Homo sapiens: one gene and its partners. The protein of the gene in region 5 purifies or fractionates together with the protein of the main gene of each other region. This does not show direct contact. Each region holds a gene or a part of one and is shown on either strand. Other genes may lie near its edges.

Evidence for each region.
Region 1: the proteins of ODAD1 (region 5) and ODF2 purify together in Homo sapiens (affinity purification with mass spectrometry; one large-scale study listed by BioGRID and IntAct). This does not show direct contact.
Region 2: the proteins of ODAD1 (region 5) and SRGAP2 purify together in Homo sapiens (affinity purification with mass spectrometry; one large-scale study listed by BioGRID and IntAct). This does not show direct contact.
Region 3: the proteins of ODAD1 (region 5) and VEZT purify together in Homo sapiens (affinity purification with mass spectrometry; one large-scale study listed by BioGRID and IntAct). This does not show direct contact.
Region 4: the proteins of ODAD1 (region 5) and RGPD5 purify together in Homo sapiens (affinity purification with mass spectrometry, with the first as the bait; one large-scale study listed by BioGRID). This does not show direct contact.
Region 6: the proteins of ODAD1 (region 5) and TRPM4 purify together in Homo sapiens (affinity purification with mass spectrometry; one large-scale study listed by BioGRID and IntAct). This does not show direct contact.
Region 7: the proteins of ODAD1 (region 5) and COG5 purify together in Homo sapiens (affinity purification with mass spectrometry; one large-scale study listed by BioGRID and IntAct). This does not show direct contact.

What each region holds. Positions count from the first base shown.
Region 1 is NC_000009.12:128,459,006-128,462,505, forward strand, and holds part of ODF2 (outer dense fiber protein 2), read left to right. Parts: intron 1-561; coding exon 562-652; intron 653-1,152; exon of another isoform or gene 1,153-1,294; intron 1,295-1,507; exon of another isoform or gene 1,508-1,544; coding exon 1,545-1,661; intron 1,662-1,936; coding exon 1,937-2,062; intron 2,063-3,500. UniProt on the Homo sapiens protein: Seems to be a major component of sperm tail outer dense fibers (ODF).
Region 2 is NC_000001.11:206,206,541-206,210,040, forward strand, and holds part of SRGAP2 (SLIT-ROBO Rho GTPase-activating protein 2), read left to right. Parts: intron 1-3,500. UniProt on the Homo sapiens protein: Postsynaptic RAC1 GTPase activating protein (GAP) that plays a key role in neuronal morphogenesis and migration mainly during development of the cerebral cortex. Regulates excitatory and inhibitory synapse maturation and density in cortical pyramidal neurons.
Region 3 is NC_000012.12:95,266,307-95,269,806, forward strand, and holds part of VEZT (vezatin), read left to right. Parts: intron 1-50; coding exon 51-326; intron 327-3,500. UniProt on the Homo sapiens protein: Plays a pivotal role in the establishment of adherens junctions and their maintenance in adult life.
Region 4 is NC_000002.12:109,855,755-109,858,205, forward strand, and holds the end of RGPD5 (RANBP2-like and GRIP domain-containing protein 5/6), read left to right. Parts: intron 1-107; coding exon 108-142; 3' UTR 143-1,951; downstream 1,952-2,451.
Region 5 is NC_000019.10:48,304,972-48,308,471, reverse strand, and holds part of ODAD1 (outer dynein arm-docking complex subunit 1), read left to right. Parts: intron 1-2,148; coding exon 2,149-2,216; intron 2,217-3,500. UniProt on the Homo sapiens protein: Component of the outer dynein arm-docking complex (ODA-DC) that mediates outer dynein arms (ODA) binding onto the doublet microtubule. Involved in mediating assembly of both ODAs and their axonemal docking complex onto ciliary microtubules.
Region 6 is NC_000019.10:49,209,792-49,212,336, forward strand, and holds the end of TRPM4 (transient receptor potential cation channel subfamily M member 4), read left to right. Parts: intron 1-417; coding exon 418-614; intron 615-918; coding exon 919-1,051; intron 1,052-1,223; coding exon 1,224-1,296; intron 1,297-1,372; coding exon 1,373-1,478; intron 1,479-1,702; coding exon 1,703-1,707; 3' UTR 1,708-2,045; downstream 2,046-2,545. UniProt on the Homo sapiens protein: Calcium-activated selective cation channel that mediates membrane depolarization. While it is activated by increase in intracellular Ca(2+), it is impermeable to it.
Region 7 is NC_000007.14:107,231,921-107,235,420, reverse strand, and holds part of COG5 (conserved oligomeric Golgi complex subunit 5), read left to right. Parts: intron 1-1,208; exon of another isoform or gene 1,209-1,339; intron 1,340-3,500.

The DNA of each region.
Region 1 (3,500 bases), on a different chromosome or scaffold from region 5:
AGCTAATTTTTGTATGTTTTGTAGAGATGGGGTCTTGCCATGTTGCCCAGGCTGGTCTCAAACTCCTGGGCTCAAGCAATCTGCCTGCCTTGGCCTCCAAAAGTGCTGGGATTACAGGCATGAGACATGGCTTGTGGCCACTAATGCTCTATTTTTGTCACTCACTCACTGCATCTTTCTCCAGGGCCGCCTCTGCTCCAGGCACTGTCCTGGGTGCTTCTACCCTTGGCCAAACCAGCACATTGGCTTCTGTTCATGTGCTGCTTGCTTTTTGTCATCTGACAGGATGTCAGCTAGGCTTTTCAGCAAGGGTCATAATACATGTGATGTGACGATATGTTAAAAGTCCAGCCTGCAAATGCCTGTCACCCTATTTCCATCCCACTGCTGGGCACACCACGCACATCTGGTGCTCATCTCAGGGGAGTCAAGGAATTCCAGGCTGGTTTTCCTAGCCATGAACATGTTAGCTACCGTAGTCAGTGTGTAATTTCATGAGATCTGAAATATAAGATTGCCCTAGTTTTCTGCTTACAATCTGGTTCTTGTGCCTGGGTGCAGGTTTCCATCGTGTGGGAAGAACGGAGTAACGAGTCTCACGCAGAAAAAGGTCTTGAGAGCACCTTGTGGCGCACCCAGTGTAACTGTGACGGTAGGTGATGCACTCACGTAGCAGCCCTCTTTGGTCACCTTGCTAAAAATGCTTTTGCACACCGTTTCTAGGAGGTGCCTTACCCTGCTGGGCACCATCGCCGCCCAGTTGCTCTGCTAGGTGCTGTTATACATACTCTGCTGATTTTTAATTATGATCATCATTTTTGCCTGTGGTGAGGCTGCCGGGTGTGAGGAAATTGTCTTAGACTTATTCTTCCAGCCAAATCCTAAAATCTTGAGATTTTTAAAATAAAGGAAAAGAAAAAGAAGAGAAAAAAAAAGTTTAAAGAATGAGGGGAAGGATAAGAGCTGGTGGTGGTTGAGGGGTTTGTAGCTGTGGTTCTGCCTTGCTCATGTTTTCTTTAGAATCTAGACAGCCTTCTCATCCTTAGGATTTCCTTCAGCTTTCTGTTTTCCTGTTCTTTGATCTGCCTGCTCTCTGATTTATTCTGCACCCTGAGCATTTTGTGTGTTTCCCACGCCAATCTGCATGCCCAGTTGAGATCACTGTGTAGAAGGATCCGCCTGCTTTCCGCTGTGCTTCACTAAATCCAAGGAGGAGCTGTGCATTCCAGCAGGTTTAGAGGAGATCCAGCCCTAAGAACCCTGGGGCCGGCGTCTGGGATCTGTTCTGGAACGGGTGGGTCTTGCAGACCCTCTCTTGAGTGGACCAGAATCTCCCTTGTGGTCTTCTGCTGGGATCTCTGCAGGAGCCTGCTGAATGATACTCCCGCCTTACTCCCTGCCTGCATGCCAGTAGTTGGTAGCTGTCCTGCTCGCTTGGTGGCTAGGCTTTTTGGTGGCCCCCAGAGGCTGTGAGCTCTGTTTTTATGCCCAGTTTACTCATCCACAGATCAACCATTTTTGTGTTGTCCTCCCCCACCTGCCAGAAGCCAACCATGAAGGACCGCTCTTCAACTCCCCCCTTACATGTTCACGTGGATGAGAACACCCCTGTCCACGTCCACATAAAAAAACTCCCGAAACCATCAGCGACCAGCAGCCAGGTAGGAGCATGCCAGTGGGGCGAGGTAGTAGCTGTGGATCTGGGTGATCCTGCTAAGCCCAGCCTCCTCGCACTCTGACTCCAAAGGTTTGGGAGACAAACACACTCTTTCGGAGGCCGGTTTCCTGGTTAGAAGGTAGGCAGGCCTGTCATCCAGGAGCAACAGCAGTAACATTAGTCAGAAGAGGCACTCTGCTAGTCGGAGAGGGATGTCACTAGCGTGGCACCGTGGCCAGCTGGGTGTGGAAGTGACCCTGGGTTTGTCCCTTTCCACAGAAATCTCACAAGCGAGGAATGAAAGGGGACACTGTGAATGTGCGGCGGAGTGTCCGGGTGAAAACCAAGGTACCTTGGATGCCCCCTGGAAAATCATCTGCCCGGCCTGTGGGATGCAAGTGGGAGGTAGGCTCACCCTTGCCCAGGCTTTTCTTCTCGGACTGCTCAGATCCTAGCAGGCCTCAGCCTCGGTATGATTCAGGGTCAGCTATAGCTACTGGAATGTCCTAACAGACCCCATTTACTGAGGGCCTTGCTAAACCCTGAAACTATGTGAATCTTCTTGAGTTCTTATGATACTGCTGTGTGGGAAGTCCTGCTGTCCAAAGGCAGAGATGAGGAACCAGACCTCAGAGAGAAGTGATTTTCCCAGAGTCACAGAGAAGTTAGCAGAGCTGGAGTTAAGATTCATTCTAGAGGCAGTACTCTTAGCCTCTCTGCTTTGCTTGTGAGGAGCCACATCACATGTATTTTCTTTTCTTTTCTTTTCTTTTTGAGACAGAGCCTTGCTCTGTCGCCCAGGCTGGAGTGCAGTGGCATGATCTTGGCTCATTGCAACCTCTGCCTCCCAGGTTCAAGTGATTCTCCAGCCTCAGCCTCCCTAGTAGCTGGGACTACAGGCGCCCGCCACCACTTACGTCTGATTTTTAAATTTTTAGTAGAGATGGGGTTTCATCGTGTTGGCCAGGCTGGTCTCGAACTCCTGACCTCAGGTGATCCGCCCGCCTCGGCCTCCCAAGGTGTTGGGATTACAGGCGTGAGCCACCACAGCCAGCCTATTTTTCTTATAGTTTATTACATTAGAAATCTTTCATACCAGCAGTGAAAAGAAAAAAAAATAGAAATGAAAAACAAAAGTAACTCCTTGAAGTTTATAGTCATACCTCATAAAACTATGTCAAAACTGACTCCTTGATTTACCAGACAAAGGAGACTCCTTTCCCTTAGAGACAAAGGGAGTATGGGGCTTTCTTAGGATTAAATGGAAACTGCTCTGACCAGTACAATAAATTAAAAGGATTGAAATTAGACTGCTGCCTTACATTTTTTACTACATATACTTCACTAATAATCAGTGAAATGTAAATTAAAAGCCACAGTATATTTTTTTTAAAACAAAAACAATGAGCTTTTTTCTTGAATGGAAAAAGTTTAAAAAATGACAACTATCTCCTGCCAGCAAGCATATGGGATATCAATGAATCTTTTTTTTTTTTTTCCGAAATGGAGTTTCGCTCTTGTTGCCCTTGCCCAGGCTGGAGTGCAGTGGCGCGATCTTGGCTCACCACAACCTCCGCCTCCTGGGTCAAGCGATTCTCCTGCCTCAGCCTGCTGAGTAGCTAGGATTACAGGCATGCACCACCATCCCGGCTAGTTTTGTATTTTTAGTAGAGATAGGGTTTGTCCATGTTGGTCAGGCTGGTCTCGAACTCCCGACCTCAGGTGATCAGCCCACCTCAGCCTCCCAAAGTGCTGGGATTACAGGTGTGAGCCACCACACCCGGCCCGAATCTTTTAAAACGTTTTTTATAGGACTGTGAACCTGATTCAGCTGTTCTGGAGT
Region 2 (3,500 bases), on a different chromosome or scaffold from region 5:
GCATTGGCACCAAAAGTCCATTGCCACCTTGGGTGTACCTTGTACCTGCCTGGTCTCTGGTCGGCCTGCATACAATCAGAGATCAGAGAATAAGGCCACCCACGCCCGGTCTCCGCCCTCACCTAAATCTGAATAGAGTTGGGAGGATGTTAGGGTAGCCGGTTGGTGCTGATTCTGGAAAATGGGAAGACATAATTGTTTAACCCTTCTGTGCTGTGGCCCTCTGCTCCGGAAGACATGCTTTTAAAGCCCCATTTCCCTCTCCTGAAAAATGTGAAGGGTAAAGCAAAATGTGGACTAGGAGAAACCAAGTGACCTGTCTTCTCATCTAGTCGACTGACTTGACTCATGAATAAGAGCCCTTACTCAGATAGCGTTTTTTAAACCAGCAGTTCCCATAGGAAGGGTTCCTGCCTGTTAAAGAGCTGCAGCATGTGTTTGTGCAAGGCACTGTCCCTTCCTGGTCAGTCACTGGAAAGAGCCATGTGGCTCCAGCCCATTGAGACCTTAGCTGGGGAGTGGAAGAGGTGGGTGGCCTTGAATGTTACACCACATGGTTGGAGCTCTGGGTTTTCCTTTGTTTCAGAGTACAGAGGGAGGGGCCCCTCCTTTCCCTGCACCAGTGCAAGGAGACCTTTTCCTATCAGAGAGGACTTGGGAAGGGCCATGGCTCCCCTCTAATGATTGCTGGGGGGTGGGGGTAGGTGTAGAGTTTGAAATGGGCAGCTCCCTTATCTCTTGGAAGGTTGGAAGGTAGTCTGAAGTCCTCATTGTACCTACAGGATCTTTTTTATGTCATTAGTTTGGTCAGTGCTGGAGGTGCCCTAAGGGGCCTTCTATCCACTTGGCTGCAAATATTGGTAGGTTTATTACAGAGATGGGGGAGTTGACTGATTGATAGCTTCAGTTGAACTGGGATTGAGAGAGGTGTGGTTGTGAGTTATTATTGAGGTCTTGGCCTCTTGTCACTGTTCATAATCCAGGCTTGTTTTTGTAAACAATAGGCCACTGGCCTCCATGTCCTGTCCAGATGCATTGCATTTGCTCTTGGAATCCCCCCTGCAGTTTTAACCAGATATGTCTTTTTTTTTTTTTTTTTTTAACACATCCTATTCTTAAACTGTTGCCATCGGGAGTGTTAATAACTTTGATCTTCCCAGATTTCTCTCCAGAAGCACGCCATTTGACTAAGGTGCAAAGTGACTTTAAATGTTTAATTTTTGGAAGGTTCAAGGCTGATAGGTGTTAATAGAACCATATCTGCCAATTTCTTATTGGCAAAGGATTTCTCAAGAGTGTCTCAAAATTAAACACTTTGGATATTTACAAACATTGCTCATTGAGATGATGTAATGCAGTCGGCTATTTGGGTTCTCTCTTCAACCTTGCCACAAACAGACTATTTTGCTTTGCTCTGATATTTTCCCATTGATACTATTCAGGATCATAGAATTTTATAGGTGGCTGAGCATGATGTCTTACTCCGAGAAGGTGCCTGATGAATGCTTATGGAACTGATTTGAATAGTTTAGTCCTTCATTTTACAGCTGAGGAGAATACAGAGAACTGAAGAGGCTTGTCCAAGGTCACACGGCTAGATGGTGGCAGATCTGAAACTAGAAGCAGATTTACCAACTCTCAATTCTCTATTCTGTATCTTTACTATGAAACATCATCTGACCAGGGTGGAAAAAAATAAAAAATTCTTAAGGAGCCCAAATCTGTCAATGAATAATAATAGTAATAATGATAATGATAATAGATTACATTTTGGTTGCTCATTATGTTCCAGTCCATCCCAAGTGCTTTAAATGAATGGTCTGGTTTAATCCTTACCTCAACCCAGGAAATGGGTATTATTGTCACCTTCCATTCACCATATAAGGAAACTGAGGCTTAGAGAGGATGAGAAGCCCTTCCAAGGTCACACAGCCAAACCATGGCAGCTTGACTTCATTCCTTTATTCATTAACTATTTATTGAGTGCTTGCTGTGTGTTCTGGTGATTGGCCATACAGCTGTGAAGAAGAAAAAGTCTCTACCCTCATGGAGCTTATATTCTGGAAGCTGGGCTCTCTATGGAACAGCACAGAATTTGGAGACAAAGGGCCTGCGATCTGGTTTGGCTCTGCCCCCGACTAGCTAGAAGCCCTGGGTCAGAATTATTATGAGTGTCAGCTTTTTGTGTGTTATATGGGACTCATGGTGCTGCCAGACTTACTTCTCTTACAGATGCCAAGATAAAAAGAAAATTGCTGTAACAGCTATGCAGTTTGGTTTGGTTGTTAAGTGCAATTTTTAGAGTCAAAGTGATTCAGGTTTAAATCTTGGTTCTGACAGTAGCTAGCCTTTCACTTCAGGCAAGTTACATGACTTGTCTGAGCCTCAGTTTCCTTATTTGGAAAATAGGTAAAATAAAATACATTTCCTAAGATAGTAGTGAGTTGTTGATGAGATATATAAATTATTTAGAACAGTATCTTGCACTTGTAAGTGCTCAATAATGGTACGGTCTACTTCTCTGTGAGCCTTTCTTTTGCTGAATTGGGCTGACTATTGAGGCTGCATTGCATATTCACTCCCAAAGTGCCAGCTATTAAATGATAGGAAATAAGTAAGGAATGAAACTTAAGTTCTAGCTTAAGATCATTTAGTTGTAACAAAACATCTTGGGTCAGTCACTTAAACCCTCTGGACATCAGTTTCTTTTTCTGTCAGTGAACAAGTAAACTAATTATTGGCCACTGTGGTTCGGCCTGTCTTTGACCAGAGTCCCAGGTCCTGTTTTTTCAATCAGAATTGTTTGAGTCAAATGGACTCTAAATGGGACCCTCATCTCATGGGACTTTCTGGGACCCTCCCTATCCCTTGATTTTTGCCTCCCTATAAACCACCTGCTTGCATGTGCCCTGAGGAACTCCTGAGGCTTCAGCCCCAACCCTACCCCAGAGTGGTTTTATGAGGGGTGTGCCTCCTTAGTCAGCCTGCCTTGTAGTGTCTTCTTAAAAACCATCATTGTTTCTGGTTTGTGGGTGCCCAGATTCCTTGGAAAGTTCATGCCTCTCAATGTCTGACTTGAAAGCAATAATATTCTTAGTCTTTTTACATAGCTCTTTCCAATTTACATTATGCTTTCATATGTAGTTGTCCGTCAGTATCCTCAGGGGATTGGTTCAAGGACTACCCCCACTTCCCCCAGGATACCAAAATCTGCAGATGCTCAAGTCCCTGATAACTAATGGTGTGGTATTTGCGTATAACCTATGTACACACGTCCTTCTGTATACTTTAAATCATCTCTAGATTACTTATAATACCTAATACAGTGTAAATGCTATGTAAATAGTTATACTGCTTTTAAAATTTGTATTATTTTAAATTGTTGTATTGGTATTTTTATTGTTTTTTTTTTTTTCTTGAATATTTTCCATTCCCATTTGGTTGAATCTGCAGATATGGAACCTGCAGGTATGGGGAGGGCTGATGTACATTAATCTCTG
Region 3 (3,500 bases), on a different chromosome or scaffold from region 5:
TTTCTTTCTCTAATCTGATGCATATCATTTTCTTCCTTTCTTGTTCCCAGGGATCTCTCAATGCTATTTGCCTTCATTAGCTTGCTCGTTATGCTTCCCACTTGGTGGATTGTGTCTTCCTGGCTGGTATGGGGAGTGATTCTATTTGTGTATCTGGTCATAAGAGCTTTGAGATTATGGAGGACAGCCAAACTACAAGTGACCCTAAAAAAATACAGCGTTCATTTGGAAGATATGGCCACAAACAGCCGAGCTTTTACTAACCTCGTGAGAAAAGCTTTACGTCTCATTCAAGAAACCGAAGTGATTTCCAGAGGATTTACACTGTGAGTTCATTTTTTATTTTATTTCTTAAATGATTATTTTCTATTCCATAAAGGAGAATATTTATTACCTATTTTCATTTCTATGTTGCATTTATAGGAAAAAAAAGTGCTTTTCTCTTTAGTACTTACTAAAGTCAATTAACTGCTAAGTGAAGGAATAAATACATTATGTGCTAGATTTAATATGTAGTATGATTCTGCCTATCTGCTTTGAGGAACTAAAGTACTTTGGAGATCATGATTATTTCTGTATGTTACCATGTGATTATATGAGATAATATATAGAGAGTGTCTGATACTGAACCTAACGTGCAGTAGTTACCCAGTAAATGCTTGCTCCCATTACTCCCTTTCAAATGCCTTCTTTATGATAGACGTATCTGCTATAAATGCATTTTGAAAACTCTTGACATGTACTAATAACTGTTCAGGTAAATATTAGCAGATATTATAGCACTGATACTCTCAGAATATCATGCAAATAGTGATGTTTTCCATTCTTACAGGAAATTAAATATTCACCAGTCTAGCTGTAAGTATATTAAGCTGTAGGATATATTGACTACTTAATCTATTATTAAAGGGAAAGTTACATTTATTGAGCACCAACTATATTCCATATACTATGCTAGTCACTTTTGCATACAACTAAAGGCATAGAATTATAAATGGTAAATATTCATATCCATTCCATCTGATTCTAAACCCGGCTTGCAGTACACTGGACACCTGCCAAACACTAACAGATGACAGTTGTGTGCTAGTATATTTAATAATTTATATAACCTATATAACTTTTGCAATCTATAGGTGGGGGAAAGTAAGCATATGGTGAAGAACATTCATAGCTCTTAATTAGTCGTATCTAGAAAATCATGAAAAGAGGGAGTGAAGAACCTCTGGTAGCCATCGCATCCTTCACTCTGTTCTGCTCTAGAACATTACACAATCTTGAGATAAACACTGTTTCTAAAAAATCATGGAATAGAGAAATGGAAGAATCCCAGTAGTTATCTTGTTCTTTACTCTCTTGTGTTCTACACACAATCCCAAGACATAAGATGGATTTTATAATTTCTCTTTCTTCTCAATCAAAGTATAAAAGTCAGCCAGGCACAATGGCTCACACCCGTAATCCCAGCACTTTGGGAGGTCGAGGCATGAGGATCACTTGAGCCCAGGAGTTCAAGACTAGCCTAGGCAATCTAGCAAAACCCCATCTCTACAAATAATAAAAAATTAGCCAGACGTGGTGGCACACACCTGTAGTCCCAGCTACTCGGGAGGCTGAGGTGTGAGGATTGCTTAAACCCCAGGAGGTTGAGGCTGTAGTGAGCCAAGATTGTGCCACTGCACTCCAGTTTGGGCAACAGAACTGGAGACAACAGATTCTGTCTAGGTTGGGCAACAGACTTGGTCTCAAAAAAAAAAGTATAAAAGTTCTTAGCATCTGTTGATTTTTGTCGTTGCATTAGTTGAAGTCTACTTCTTATTGACTTAAAGGATAGCACGTTTTTAAGTTGTTTAAGTGTCAAATTTTAAAAGTTTAAAAAAATCATGCTTAAAATAAGTAATATTTCCGGCCGGGCACGGTGGCCCACACCTGTAATCCCAGCACTTTGGGAGGCCGAGGCGGGCGGATCACGAGGTCAGGAGATCGTAGCTATCCTGGCTAACACGGTGAAACCCCGTCTCTACTAAAAATACAAAAAGAAATTAGCCGGGCGTGGTGGCGGGTGCCTGTAGACCCAGCTACCCGGGAGGCTGAGGCAGGAGAATGGCATGAACCCGGGAGGCAGAGCTTGCAGTGAGCCGAGATCGCGCTACTGCACTCCAGCCTGGACGACAGAGCGAGACTCCGTTTCAAAAACAAAAAAAAAGTAATAGTTCCTTTTTATTTTATTGAGAGGACTTACTGGTTGAACAAAGTGGCTTTGTTCAACTAATGGTTAGGCGTGTATAGAGGATTCTGTGCCTTGTGTCATTTTCCAACTTTATCTGTCCCCATGGAATTTGCACGAAGAGGTAAAGTGGGCCAGTTAGACATGATTTACCTTCCAGATTATGACTTCTACCCATTCAGATGACAGACGAAGAGAAGTATTGGAAGAAATTGTGCTTCCTTTGTCTCTATCTAACTGGATAATGGGTTGAAAAATGAATAATAAGTCTTGAATCATAATTTTTTAGACATTTTCAAAATTAGACAGTTTTTAAAACTGATTTAGTAAAATGGAGCACAAGCAGTAGTGCCATATATTGAAATCATGAATGCTGTTTTGTTTCTGACTCAAATTGTCCTCTCTCACAAATAATTGAAACCTTTTTTGCCTTCATTCCCTTGTCTTAACATAAGCCTGTCAGTCATCATCCTCTGCTTTTTATAGATTTTTTAAAATTTGGTTTTTATAGATTTTTAATACCTGAATACATTTTAGTATGGTTTAACATTTTTAAAGTTTTGAGTTAGGTGTGTTGTTTTATAGCTTTGTGTTATAGTATAAGCAATTTACAAATGCCAATATTTTGTTTTACTGTTGGGAAAGATTACTGGTTAGGTGAAAAAATTTATCTGATAACCAGGTATTTACTCATATATACTGTAAGTTATGAAATGTAATACATTGTATGTCATTGTTACAAATTAGGTACTCCCCATTAATCTTATGGGAAGTGCCATGAAATGTGCTTCCTCTTGAACAGCTTTGAGAGTAGCTATGCTACTATGCAGTAACCCTTACTTTGCCTTTCTACTTGTATTCCCCTGTTGGCCACTGGTCCTGTTATCTTTCCACGTCCCCTACTTCATTTTGAGTAGGTAAGTGCCAGTGGCAGCAGGTGGGTAAGTAATTTTACCCTACTTTTATGAATGTACAGAATGTATTTCTATACAGTATTTTTTCTGTACAAGTGACCAAAATATGATCAGTGAACATATGTGATGAACGTATGTAAATGTATATTAAGAATTTAAAAGTGTTTATAATTAAGGTCTTCATACTTCCTATGGATATAGGTTTTGAAAACTGAATATAAAGTAGCTCTTCTCTAATATATGTTAGCAAGCATAGTGTCTATGTAAAAAAGATGTGGATTCTTAATAAATATTTCTACATTTCTGTTATATCTCAGCCAGAATCCATTGTTTCCCCACATCAGAGGAAGCCTTTGCTC
Region 4 (2,451 bases), on a different chromosome or scaffold from region 5:
GACATTATTTGCTTATATTGTAGAGTGGTTCTAAAATATAGATTTTACATTGAGAAATTTTAATACTCTCTTTTTTCTTTTTTTTTTCTTTGTTTTACTTTCTAAAGATGAGGAAGAAAATGCTTCCCGTTCTTCTGGATGAGCATCCTATCTTCGTAGTTGGTTTGGACTTCGATAGGTTGATGGAAGGAATACTTCTATTAACCAAATAGAATCTGTTTACAAAAATGGTTCGTGTGTGTTACCATTATTCTTTTGTCAAAAAGTGTGTATATATGTTTGCATTTACATATATTTGTACATCTGTATGACAGATGTATTTTAAAAGTTTCAACTTGAAGTAAAAGTACAACAGCTTGAAGTGTTGATACCAGGCCACAGCCCTCTAACTCATGTGATCTCCCATGCATGCTGCCAGAATAAAACCACCAGGAATGAATTCACTCCCCACTTCTCTGGAACCTCAGGACCCGCCCATTTCTCGGCAGTACTGTGAATTTTGAAGTTAAACTAAATTTTGGTACCATACCAACTGGAATTTAGGCTTTAAAAATAATGTTTCAAGGCCAGGTGTGGTGATTCATGCCTGAAATCCCACTACTTTGGGAGGCTGAGGCTGGAGAATCGCTTGAGGCTAGTGAGCTGTGATTGTACCACTGCACTCCAGCTCGGGGAACAGAGCGAGACCTTGTCTCTAAAAATAATAATAGTAATAAAAATAACGTTTTATGACTATTTATTGCAAGGTCAGATTTACAGATTGTTATAAATTGTTGAGAAATTTTTGTGATTAGAATATGAAGGAAAAAGCTTTGTTGGTAAAAGTGACATGTTAAGGGGCTATGAAGTAAATATGCTGCAGTTAATTGTGCTAAGTTAAAATACAGTTTAGTTATTTGCTTTAAAATAAACTCTTCTTTTTTTCTTTAAAGTATACTACCTCAAAACTCATTATGTTGTCAGAGCCCTAGAGCTGGCTAGTGTAACACTGACTATGAGTAGGTGGGCCCACCACTTGAGTTGAGGTGATTTCATGGTGTCTTTCCAGGCTCTTGATAGGGTGTCACTGCATGCAAGCCATGAATCTGTTTTGAGAATCCTCTCCATTTTCCCAAATAAAAACCTATCCCAACAGTGACTATATCACTCAGCATTGGATCTAAATATAAAAGTGGTGCTTTCAGTGTTTTTGGCAGATAGTGTTCCATAACCTTTCCATCAGAAGGGATTTTAGACACCTTAGAGGTCCGTGCTACATCTTCACAGTTCCTCCGAATAACCTTAGGTGGTAGTGTTACTTGCCTTTGACACCTGTGCATATGTTTTAATGACTAGATCCAAACTGTGTTGTTCTTAAATCAAAAATTGGATAATTTTTAATATTTATGTATTAATCACACAGTGTGCTCTCTGAAGTTCTCTTAAGCCTTCAGTTTATACTCTTAATTTTCTTTCTGAGCTGGGGAACTGACTTTGCACTTTGGTTACACAGAACATTGGTTTCCAATTTAGTTTAACTGAAATTTGCTGCTGATATGTTGAGTTTGTTCTTTAAAAAATATCTCATATATCTCGTCTTTCCTCCTTAGAAGAACAGACCTAACTAGCGAATGTATGAATGAAAATGCATCTATTTCAGAGCCGACATGAAGAGTTTAGTTTTTTTACTTTATAAACTGTGAATATGAGTATGCCAGCTGCATTAGATGTAACTAATCATATTTAAATATATTTCACTTTGACTTTAGACCTTTTGAAGTCTGTATAAACTTGTTTTGAAATACAGTCTCCACTTACGAATGTCATAACAAAATACTTTTTTGCATGATAAAAAATTACTTTGATTACAAAAGGCATATTCTTTCATGGTTTCTGCAATGAGAGGAAGTGTAATGATTATTTTAATATTTCTATTAAAACTGTATATTTTTATGGCTGCTCTTTTATGTTACCCACTGTCTCTTTGGGGTTGTTAATTGGTTTCTGAAAGGGAACTTCAAACTCCTTTACTACTGGCCTTCCATGGTTGGTCCCTATTAGGTTGTTGTGAGAACGTCGACCAACTCTTTGATACCCGCCAGGTAGACCGTAGTACCTGCCATGTCTGACACCCTGCATCCAGCTAAAACCAGAAACAGCGCTGGGCCTCCCTGTGGACAAGACATTGATTTGACCAGAAGCAGATGTCTGGCTAAGGCTGCCAACCAAAGGGTGGCCTTAGATGAAGGGCTTTGTTCAGTTAGGGGCAGAGGTCATTAATTTTTTTTTTTTTTTTTGAGACAGAGTCTTGCTCTGTCGCCCAGGCGTGAGTGCAATGGCGCGATCTCGGCTCACTGCAAGCTCTGCCTCCCAGGTTCACGCCATTCTCCTGCCTCAGCCTCCTAAGTAGCTGGGACTACAGGCGCCGGCCACCATGCCCGGCTAATTTTTTGTATTTTTACTAGAGACAGG
Region 5 (3,500 bases):
GGGTGTGGTGGCTCATGCCTGTAATTCCAGCACTTTGGGAGGCTGAGGCAGGCGGATCACCTGAGGTCAGGAGTTCGAGACCAGCCTGGCTAACATGGTGAAACCCCGTTTCTACTAAAAATACAAAAAATTAGCCAGGTGTGGTGGTGCACGCCTGTAATCCCAGCTACTTGGGAGGCTGAGGCAGGAGAATCACTTGAACCAGGGAGCTGGAGGCTGCAGTGAGCCAAGATTGTGCCATTGCACTCCAGCCTGGGCAACAAGAGTGAAACTCTGTCTCAAAAAAAAAAAAAGCAAAAAGGAAACACTTCTCTTTCTCCCCCTGTATATTTGAGTGTTGTCAGTGAGCATTAGTGTATTCTGACTTTATAGATGATGATCCGTAACTGCCATTCATTTTAATATTCAAATTGCCCCAGATTTGGTTAGTGGGAGCCCCTTCAAGCTGGCTTCTGTGGCCTTTGGACATACCCCATCACTTTTTGGGAGTACTTCCTCACTTTCTGGCACACGAAGATAGTCTGGGTAATCTGGACCTTGTTCTGCCCCATCCCTGGGGTTGGCCATTTTTCTGAGGAGTCCCGGTTCTTTCTAGGGAAGAGTAGGTGTTGAGGCACTAAGAGACCGTTTTCTTTTTTTTTTTTTTTTTGAGACGGAGTCTCGCTTTGTCACCCAGGCTAAAGTGCTGGAGTGCAGTGGCATGATCTCGGCTCACTGCAAGCTCCGCCTCCCAGGTTCACGCCGTTCTCCTGCCTCAGCCTCCCGAGTAGCTGGGACTACAGGCACCTGCCACCACGCCCGGCTAATTTTTTGTATTTTTAGTAGAGACGGGGTTTTGCCGTGTTAGCCAGGATGGTCTCGATCTCCTGACCTCGTGATCCGCCCACCTCGGCCTCCCACAGTGCTGGGATTACAGGCGTGAACCACCAGCCTGGCACTAAGAGACTCTGTTGCTACTTGGGTGTCATTGCTTTGAGGCCCTTCCTCTGGAGAGAGCTAGGAAGCACACATATTTTATATGTTTTAAAATTCTATTTATGTTTTGTAGAGATGGGGTCTTACTATGTTGTCCAGGCTGCTCTCAAACTCTTGGGCTCAGGTGATTCTCCTGCCTTGGCCTCACAAAGTATTGGGATTACAGGCATGAGCCACTGCGCCTGGCTGACATATTTTACAATAGTGAGTTCACATTGATACCTCTGATTCCATTCCAATATCACCAGCTTTTTCCTGAGCATTCCTCATTTCATCTTTCTTTCTTTCTTTCTTTCTTTTTTTTTTTCTTTTGAGATGGAGTCTCACTCTTGTTGCCCAGGCTAGGGTGCAATGGCACGATCTCGGCTCACCACAACCTCCGCCTCCCGGATTCAAGCTATTCTTCTGCCTCATTGTCCCAAGTAGCTGGGATTACAGGCATGCACCACCACGCCTGGTTAATTTTTTGTATTTTTAGTAGAGACAGGGTTTCTCCATGTTGGTCAGGCTGGTCTCAAACTCCCGACCTCAGGTGATCCTCCCGTCTTGGCCTCCCAAAGTGCTGGGATTACAGTCGTGAGCCACCGCGCCTGGCCCTAATTTTGTATTTTTAATAGAGATGGAGTTTCTCTATGTTGGCCAGGCTGGTCTCGAACTCCCAAGCTCAGGTGATCTGCCCGCCTCGTCCTCCCAAACTGCTGGGATTATGGGCCTGAGCCACCGCACCTGGCCCTATTATTATTTTTAAATAAAGTTCACTTGCTTCCATTTGCATTCAGTTTTAGTTTTCTCTCCTCTCTTTATTGATTTAATTTCCTTTATGAATATGTAAAACATTAACAAGGTTCTCAAATCAAACTATTCCAAAAGGTCTCCTAGGGAAACGTCATTTCCTCTCCATCTCCTCCACCTCATTTCCACCCAGTCCCCGTAGGTTACTAAATATTTTCTTAGTTTCTGCTTATCTACAGAAAGAGCCTTTTGATCCAGCTTATCAATTTGACTTCACACCTCTTTAAAATCCCTTTCATGGGCAGTCGCTAATGAGGAGGGTCCACATTTGGAAGGCTCAAGAGCTTTACTCCTTATTGGAGAAGCACGGGGCCAAAAGGAAAGACTTCGAGCAATGGGGTTGTAAGAAGTGGCACTGATTTTTTTCTCCTCCCCCCACAGGAGATCCACCACCTGCATCACCTGGTCAGCACCCTTATCCTCTCCTCCACCTCTGCCTACGCCGTCAGGTAGAGACTGCGGGTATCCTGGGATGGCGGGACCCAGATGACTCAGGACGCACCTTTCCATAAGGCAGTGATGGGAAGGTTCAGGACTCATGAAACACGTCAGAACCTATTTTTTCTCCCATAATATCCCCTTTTTCTCTCTCCCCGCCACCAGTTCCCCACCTCCACTGGCAAGGTCCTGTTCTGTCTTTTTTTTTGAGACAGAGTCTGGCTCTGTCGCCCAGGCTACAGTGCAGTTGCGCTATCTTGGCTCACTGCAACCTCTACCTCCCAGGTTCAAACAATTCTCCTGCCTCAGCCTCCCGAGTAGCTGGGATTACAGGTGCCCGGCACCGTGGCTGGCTAATTTTTGTATTTTTAGTAGAGATGGGGTTTCACCATCTTGACCAGGCTGGTCTTGAACTCCTGAGCTCATGATCTACCCGCCTCTGCCTCCCAAAGTGCTGGGATTACAGGCATGAGCCATTGCACCCCACCGGCCCTGTTCTTTTTCTTGGGCATGTAAATTAACCTCTACTGACCCCATCTAGCACATAAGAATGTATCTACTGGCTGGGCGAGGTGGCTCACGCCTGTAATCCCAACACTTTGGGAGGCCAAGGCAGGCAGATTGCTTGAGCTCAGGAGTTCGAGACCAGCCTGGCCAACATGGTGAAATCCCATCTCTACCAAAAATATAAAAACTTAGCTGGGCATGGTGGCGGGTGTCTGTGGTCCCAGCTACTTGGGAGGCTGAGGTGGGAGGATTGCTTGAGCCCTGGGGGCGGAGGTTGCAGTGAGCCGAGATTGCACCACTGCATTCCAGCCTGGGCAACAGAGTGAGACTCCGTCTCAGGAGAAAAAAAAAAAAAAAGCGCATCTAGCACATATATAGTGCAGCAGGGTTCCTGGAAGCATCTGGCGAATTTGTTATTCGTCAGCATTGGTTGCAAGGGACAGAGATCCTCTCGGGCCACCTTCAGATAGAGGCACACTGTAAGGAGTTGAGGAGCTGAAGCTGCTTTAGGTGTTGGCTTCTCTCTCCCTCTCTGGGGCTCTCATGAGCTCCATGCTCTCTCTCTCACTCCATCCCTGTCTCTTTCTCAGCTTCGCCCTCTTCTTTTGCTCCAAATGCTTTCTTACCTTCTACTAAGTTCTTCTCTGGCTTCTGTTTTCTCATGGTCCCTGATCGACATCAGCTGTGGCCTGGGTCGGCCTTAGGGTCTCTGTGATTTCTCTCTTTCTCTCTCTCTGTTAAAACAAACGTGGCAAAATTCACCATTTTAAAGCGTAGAATGTAGCAGC
Region 6 (2,545 bases), 900 kb from region 5:
AGGCTGGAGTGCAGTGGCACGATCTCAGCTCACTGCAACCTCCACCTCCTGGGTTCAAGCGATTCTCCTGCCTCAGCCTCCCCAGTAGCTGGGATTACAGGTGCCCACCACCACGCCTGGCTAATTTTTGTATTTTTAGTAGAGATGGGGCTTCACCATGTTAGCCAGGCTGGTCTCGAACTCCTGACCTGAGGTGATCCGCCCACTCCGGCCTCCCAAAGTGCTGGGACTACAGGCGTGACCAAACGCCCTTGGCTCTAACCTGACTTCTAATCGCATCCTGTAACCTCTGACTTTAGTGATCTTGACTTCTGTCTGCTGCTATAGACTGAACAATTATTGCCTGGCATCTAACCTTCGTCCTTGCCCCTGGCTGGGCCCTGACCTCAAGTGACCTTTGACCTCTGGCCTTTGCAGTTACACATTCGGCAAAGTACAGGGCAACAGCGATCTCTACTGGAAGGCGCAGCGTTACCGCCTCATCCGGGAATTCCACTCTCGGCCCGCGCTGGCCCCGCCCTTTATCGTCATCTCCCACTTGCGCCTCCTGCTCAGGCAATTGTGCAGGCGACCCCGGAGCCCCCAGCCGTCCTCCCCGGCCCTCGAGCATTTCCGTAAGAACAGAGCTTGGCTTAAAAAGGAGAAATATAGGGGACCGGGAGCCTGGAAGGCGAGGGGAAGGGGGCATGCCCCAAATGACTAACGGGCGTGGCTTAGGTAGCGAGGGGCGGGGTTTAAGCAACAAGGGGCGGAGCTTAAGCACTGAGGGGCAGTGCTTACGGGTGAGGGGCGGGGCATGTTCTCGAATCACCAGGGGCTGGGTCTGGGATAGCGTGCGTGTTCTGAGGGTGTCGGAAGGGGCAGCTGGGATTGGGAAGGGGCGTGGCCTGAGCCCTTTGACTCCGCCCGCCCCTGCAGGGGTTTACCTTTCTAAGGAAGCCGAGCGGAAGCTGCTAACGTGGGAATCGGTGCATAAGGAGAACTTTCTGCTGGCACGCGCTAGGGACAAGCGGGAGAGCGACTCCGAGCGTCTGAAGCGCACGTCCCAGAAGTGAGAGCGGGGCCTGGTCGGGGATGGGGCTTCTGGCCTGGGGCGGATCCTGACTTCAGCTGAAGGCAGGGTCCTGGGAGGGAGGGAGAGAGGGAGGAGGCCCGGGAAGCAGGCAGAGCCCTGGGGGTGGGTGGGCTGCGGGTGCCCCCGGTAAGAGGCCCTCCCTTCTCAGGGTGGACTTGGCACTGAAACAGCTGGGACACATCCGCGAGTACGAACAGCGCCTGAAAGTGCTGGAGCGGGAGGTGAGGCCTTGGGGCCTGGCTGGGGGACTGTGGCAGGGGTCCCATCTCCCGCTCTGACATTCCTCCCATTCCGCAGGTCCAGCAGTGTAGCCGCGTCCTGGGGTGGGTGGCCGAGGCCCTGAGCCGCTCTGCCTTGCTGCCCCCAGGTGGGCCGCCACCCCCTGACCTGCCTGGGTCCAAAGGTCAGTGTGTAGCATCAGCCTGTGCATCTCCAGCCTCTGTTCCTGTATTTTTGCGTGTTTTTCTCTCTCGGCACCTTTCCAGTGTCCCTGGGTCACTCTCTTGGTCTCCTTTGAGCCTTTTGTACTCTCGCCTTCGTCTTTCTTCTTTTTTGCCAGTCTCCCAGTTTTTCTGTCTCTCCCCTTCCCTGCCAATCACCTGCTCTCTCTTTTCTCTCTTCCCCCAGACTGAGCCCTGCTGGCGGACTTCAAGGAGAAGCCCCCACAGGGGATTTTGCTCCTAGAGTAAGGCTCATCTGGGCCTCGGCCCCCGCACCTGGTGGCCTTGTCCTTGAGGTGAGCCCCATGTCCATCTGGGCCACTGTCAGGACCACCTTTGGGAGTGTCATCCTTACAAACCACAGCATGCCCGGCTCCTCCCAGAACCAGTCCCAGCCTGGGAGGATCAAGGCCTGGATCCCGGGCCGTTATCCATCTGGAGGCTGCAGGGTCCTTGGGGTAACAGGGACCACAGACCCCTCACCACTCACAGATTCCTCACACTGGGGAAATAAAGCCATTTCAGAGGAATCGTGTCCGGAGGCTTGATTCCTGGGGGAGCTGGTGGGTGTCTAGATCCAGGATGGGAGCTGGAGCTGGGGTGTTGGGTTTGGGGTTCTTGGTGGATTTGCTGCTGTAATTCAGATATTTTGGAGTCCGTTTCCTCCCTTGAGCCCCATTGTTCTTGCCGGAGACCCAGCACTTCTGTCTGCACTGTTCTGACGGCTCTCGCTTCAGTAGGACAAGACCCCATCTGTACCCCCTCCCACCCAGTTTCAACTTTCCAGTGGAAAAATAACTCAGTGATAATAAGCAAATTATTTCCTGGAATGGAGGTGGGTGGGTGTTGTGTACATCTGCTTTGGCAATAGGGAAACGGATGATGCAAATTTGAGTAGATAAATGCATACGTGTCTTTAAAAAGTCTAATTAGTGGGAAATTGCAGGCCAGGCGCACACAGGGTTGAGGCAAATATGTGTGATTATACATGCAGCTTAACTAAATAACCCATAACAAGCTAAACTGGTAA
Region 7 (3,500 bases), on a different chromosome or scaffold from region 5:
GTAAAATCATTTTTAAGCCTTTCAAAGCTGTTAGCTTTACTAGTCCAAATAGTTACTGAAATGAATTCTTCATAGCAATTTGCCAGATCCTCCCCACTTATAAAGATAAATGTTAATGTCAATATTTATTCTTGTGTGTATCCGGGAGTGTGTCTTGCTTCATTATTTCTACATGGAGGAAAGGACCTGGACAGACTGCTTGTATCAAGTCAGTGGTTGTCAGGTGCTCCCTCAGACTTGACACACTTTCAAAAAAGGAACAGGTAACACAAACCTAAACTTTCAAGAGCCTGTTTCATTGCAAATTGACTGATGCAGCAGTTAGTCATTTTCATCTCCAAATAATATTCCTGGGACCATTAGACCATAGAAATGAGCCTTCATTTGGAAAATATGCTTGTAGTAGCCACAGCATAAAAACAGAGATTAAACGTTACCATTAATATGGCTCTTTTTACCTTTTACATTTTATGAACTTCATTCTTAGGCACCTGTACATTTAACTTTGTTTTACAGGTACACTTGGCTTAAAGAAAGTTATTTGTAAATAGTGTCTTATTTGTCCCTTACTGGGGTTCCAGATTGCTTATTAAAAACCTGATGATGTACTAGAACCTCCTCTTATTTGTTTAAAAAAAAAAAGTGTGAACTATACTCAGATGGTCTCTGTTCTCCTCTTCCCCTTTCCTCCTTAATTTTGTTTTTCTTTTTGTTTCATCTTCTTTCCCTGGGCTCTCTCCCCTACCAGCTTATTTGCATTCTGCTCCAGCTGGTTCTTGAGTCACTTTCCTGGAGGCAGCACTTCAAGTCCAATTAGAGTGGCAGCCGAGCAGGAGATGGCCAAAACGAGAGTGCTGTAGGAGAGAGGCTTGTTTTTGTTTTTTATTTTAATATGTTCCCTTATGGGTCCTGAAAGATGGAAAGTATTGTCCTTTAACCCTTGCTACTGCCGCTAACACCTGCTCAAAATGCATAGCATCCAGAGGCAGGGGTGAGCTTCCACCTTTCAAAAAACTGCATTATTCAAAATGTTATTTGGCATCCTTTTTTCTTAAGACATGTTGTCTAATAAGCCAAACTTTTCTGGGTCCCTTCCCTTAAGGTAAATTAAACTCATCAGTCATTATTACTAACTTATGCTCAAAGGCCTCTTGTTTCCTGTTTTTTAAACATAGAAGAAGCATTTACACACACAGCATTTACTCACTGTTAAGCCCTGCAGTGACATTTGGTTGCAGCAGGCAGTGTGGTATTGAAAAGCAGATTCCTTTGTTCACCCCTGTACAGTGTGTCCCAGTTTCAAAACATCCTGACACTCACCTTGGGGATGGCTCCAGTCCTGTGGATCATGGGTACAGAAAAGACAGGCGGAGGCACTATCATAATTAATCATATCTGTGATCATTATCTTTGGCAAATATTGTTCTACTGTTATGTCATGGTCTCCCCCACCCACTTTTTAAATTAAAATTAAAATTTCAAGGTTTTATTTCGTTTGGTTTGGTTTCTTGCCACAATTGCAATTATTTGTTGTACCTCAGCTTTTAGCATCACATTTGGTTGAAAGTGTTTTTCGAGGGTCAGTCAAAACATTTAAATAGCATTACTCTAACATTTATATTCATGACAGGCATCAACTGGGGACTAGAGGGCTTTTCAACTGCCTTATTACTGAAAGTTCTATCAATTCATATTCAAAATTAAAGCCATTGAGGTCACTGAAATCAAAAATACACAAATACTCCATGGGTTTAAAAACTGTTCTTGTGATAAAAGTGCCTGCCATTCTAGCATAAATAACAAAAAGAGCTCAAGAAGGGACCTATAGACCAGGTTTGGGAATACTAGTTATTTGCCGTAAAGTCCAATTGCAAAGAGAGATAATGACGTATTTTCAGGATTTCTTTAAGAATCCTAACTTCTCCTCACTGGCACCAGTGCAGGAAAGAGAAAGTAGTTGCAGGGTGCCATCTGGAGGGATCATGGTGAGGGAAGTACCTGACATCCAGCCCCCTTAGGAATCCAGGTCATGGGCACGAGGTGGTTTCCTACAGGTAATTAATTCCCCACTGTGACCACATGGTCTCAGTGCCTACACTGATCACACAGCAGTTCTGAAATCACTAAGCCTGTCCACGACACTGGGGTTCTGCTGATTCTGAATCTCACTGGGATCTTGCCCACAGTGTCCTCTGAAGCACATACTCCCCCTCCACCCCTCAGTTTATTTTCTTAGCTGAAGGAAAGAGTGGCTATTGAAGTTGGTATTAAATTATTTAGTGGTACTTCTAGCAATTTCTATTTATAGGTCTTCTGGTGCCCTTTAAGCATACATTTATATCTATTTCACTTTGTGCCTAAAAATATTAATTTAGAAAAGAAAACAAGACAATCAAAATTCTAATTTTTGTTCTAATTCCTATTGCCTTTTCTTCTCCTGAACAATGTCAGGGCAGGAGTACCCTAGGAGTATCCAAAGAAGTCCTGTGGTTAACCAAATGTCTGTGGTAGGGAAGGAACAGCTATGTAATTAGTTCACCGTGCCTGCAGCTGACCGCTCATTCTCTCCAAACGGGGGCTGGAGAGAAGCAGTTGCACATGCCACTTTTGTATCCGCTGCTAATGGCAGAGTCACCTCCTCTTACCACAACACTCTTGCCCTTTAAAACATGGCCTTTATTGTTTAATGGAATTCTGGAAGAAGAAAATGATTTACAATATCCTAGAGGTCCTTTATGGATAAAAAAATTTTATTTTAAACATTAAACATTTTGAAATTGTCCTGCGGCATAGAAATCTTTTGCATAATCATACATTTTCCAGCCATTCGAGGTCATATTTTCTCATATCGTAACTTTTTCCTAGCCATTTATTTGTTTTAACATTTGGTCCTGCTCAAGTGCTAAGGCAAAGGTTGTCTTTGAAGACAGTGATTCCACTAGAGTAGTTGAGAAATTGACAAAAACACTTCGTGAAAAATATATAATTTCAGTATGTAAAAAACCATTATATAGAGAGAGGTATTTGAATGGAATTATATCAAAGATACAGTGATAATCACATTTTTCCTTTGTGCTCAGTGTAAAGTAAGTGACACATATGGAAAGAAAACAGAAATTCCTACCCAGTGAATAAATGAAACAGGTTCCAAAGAACAGCCTATCACCTACTGTCTTTTGAGTTGGGCACACTGGCTCACAGCTGTTCTGTTTTGCATTGTTGGCAAGAATCCTTTTTCTTCCTTACATTTTTATCTTTATATTTATTTATGATTCTTCATTTTATAGTTTCCCAGCCATATAAGGTTTCCTTCTAGGACATGCAGTATGCAATCCATGTCTTTAATATGTTATGAGAGAAATTAACCTGGTTACTGTTCATCCTCAAGACCATCCCAAGGAAGCTTCTCCAACTCTCTCGACACTGAGGTCATAAGTTTGACATAGCACTTATCATTTTGCTTAATAAGAATCATTATGTGTGTATGTATGTGTGTTTAT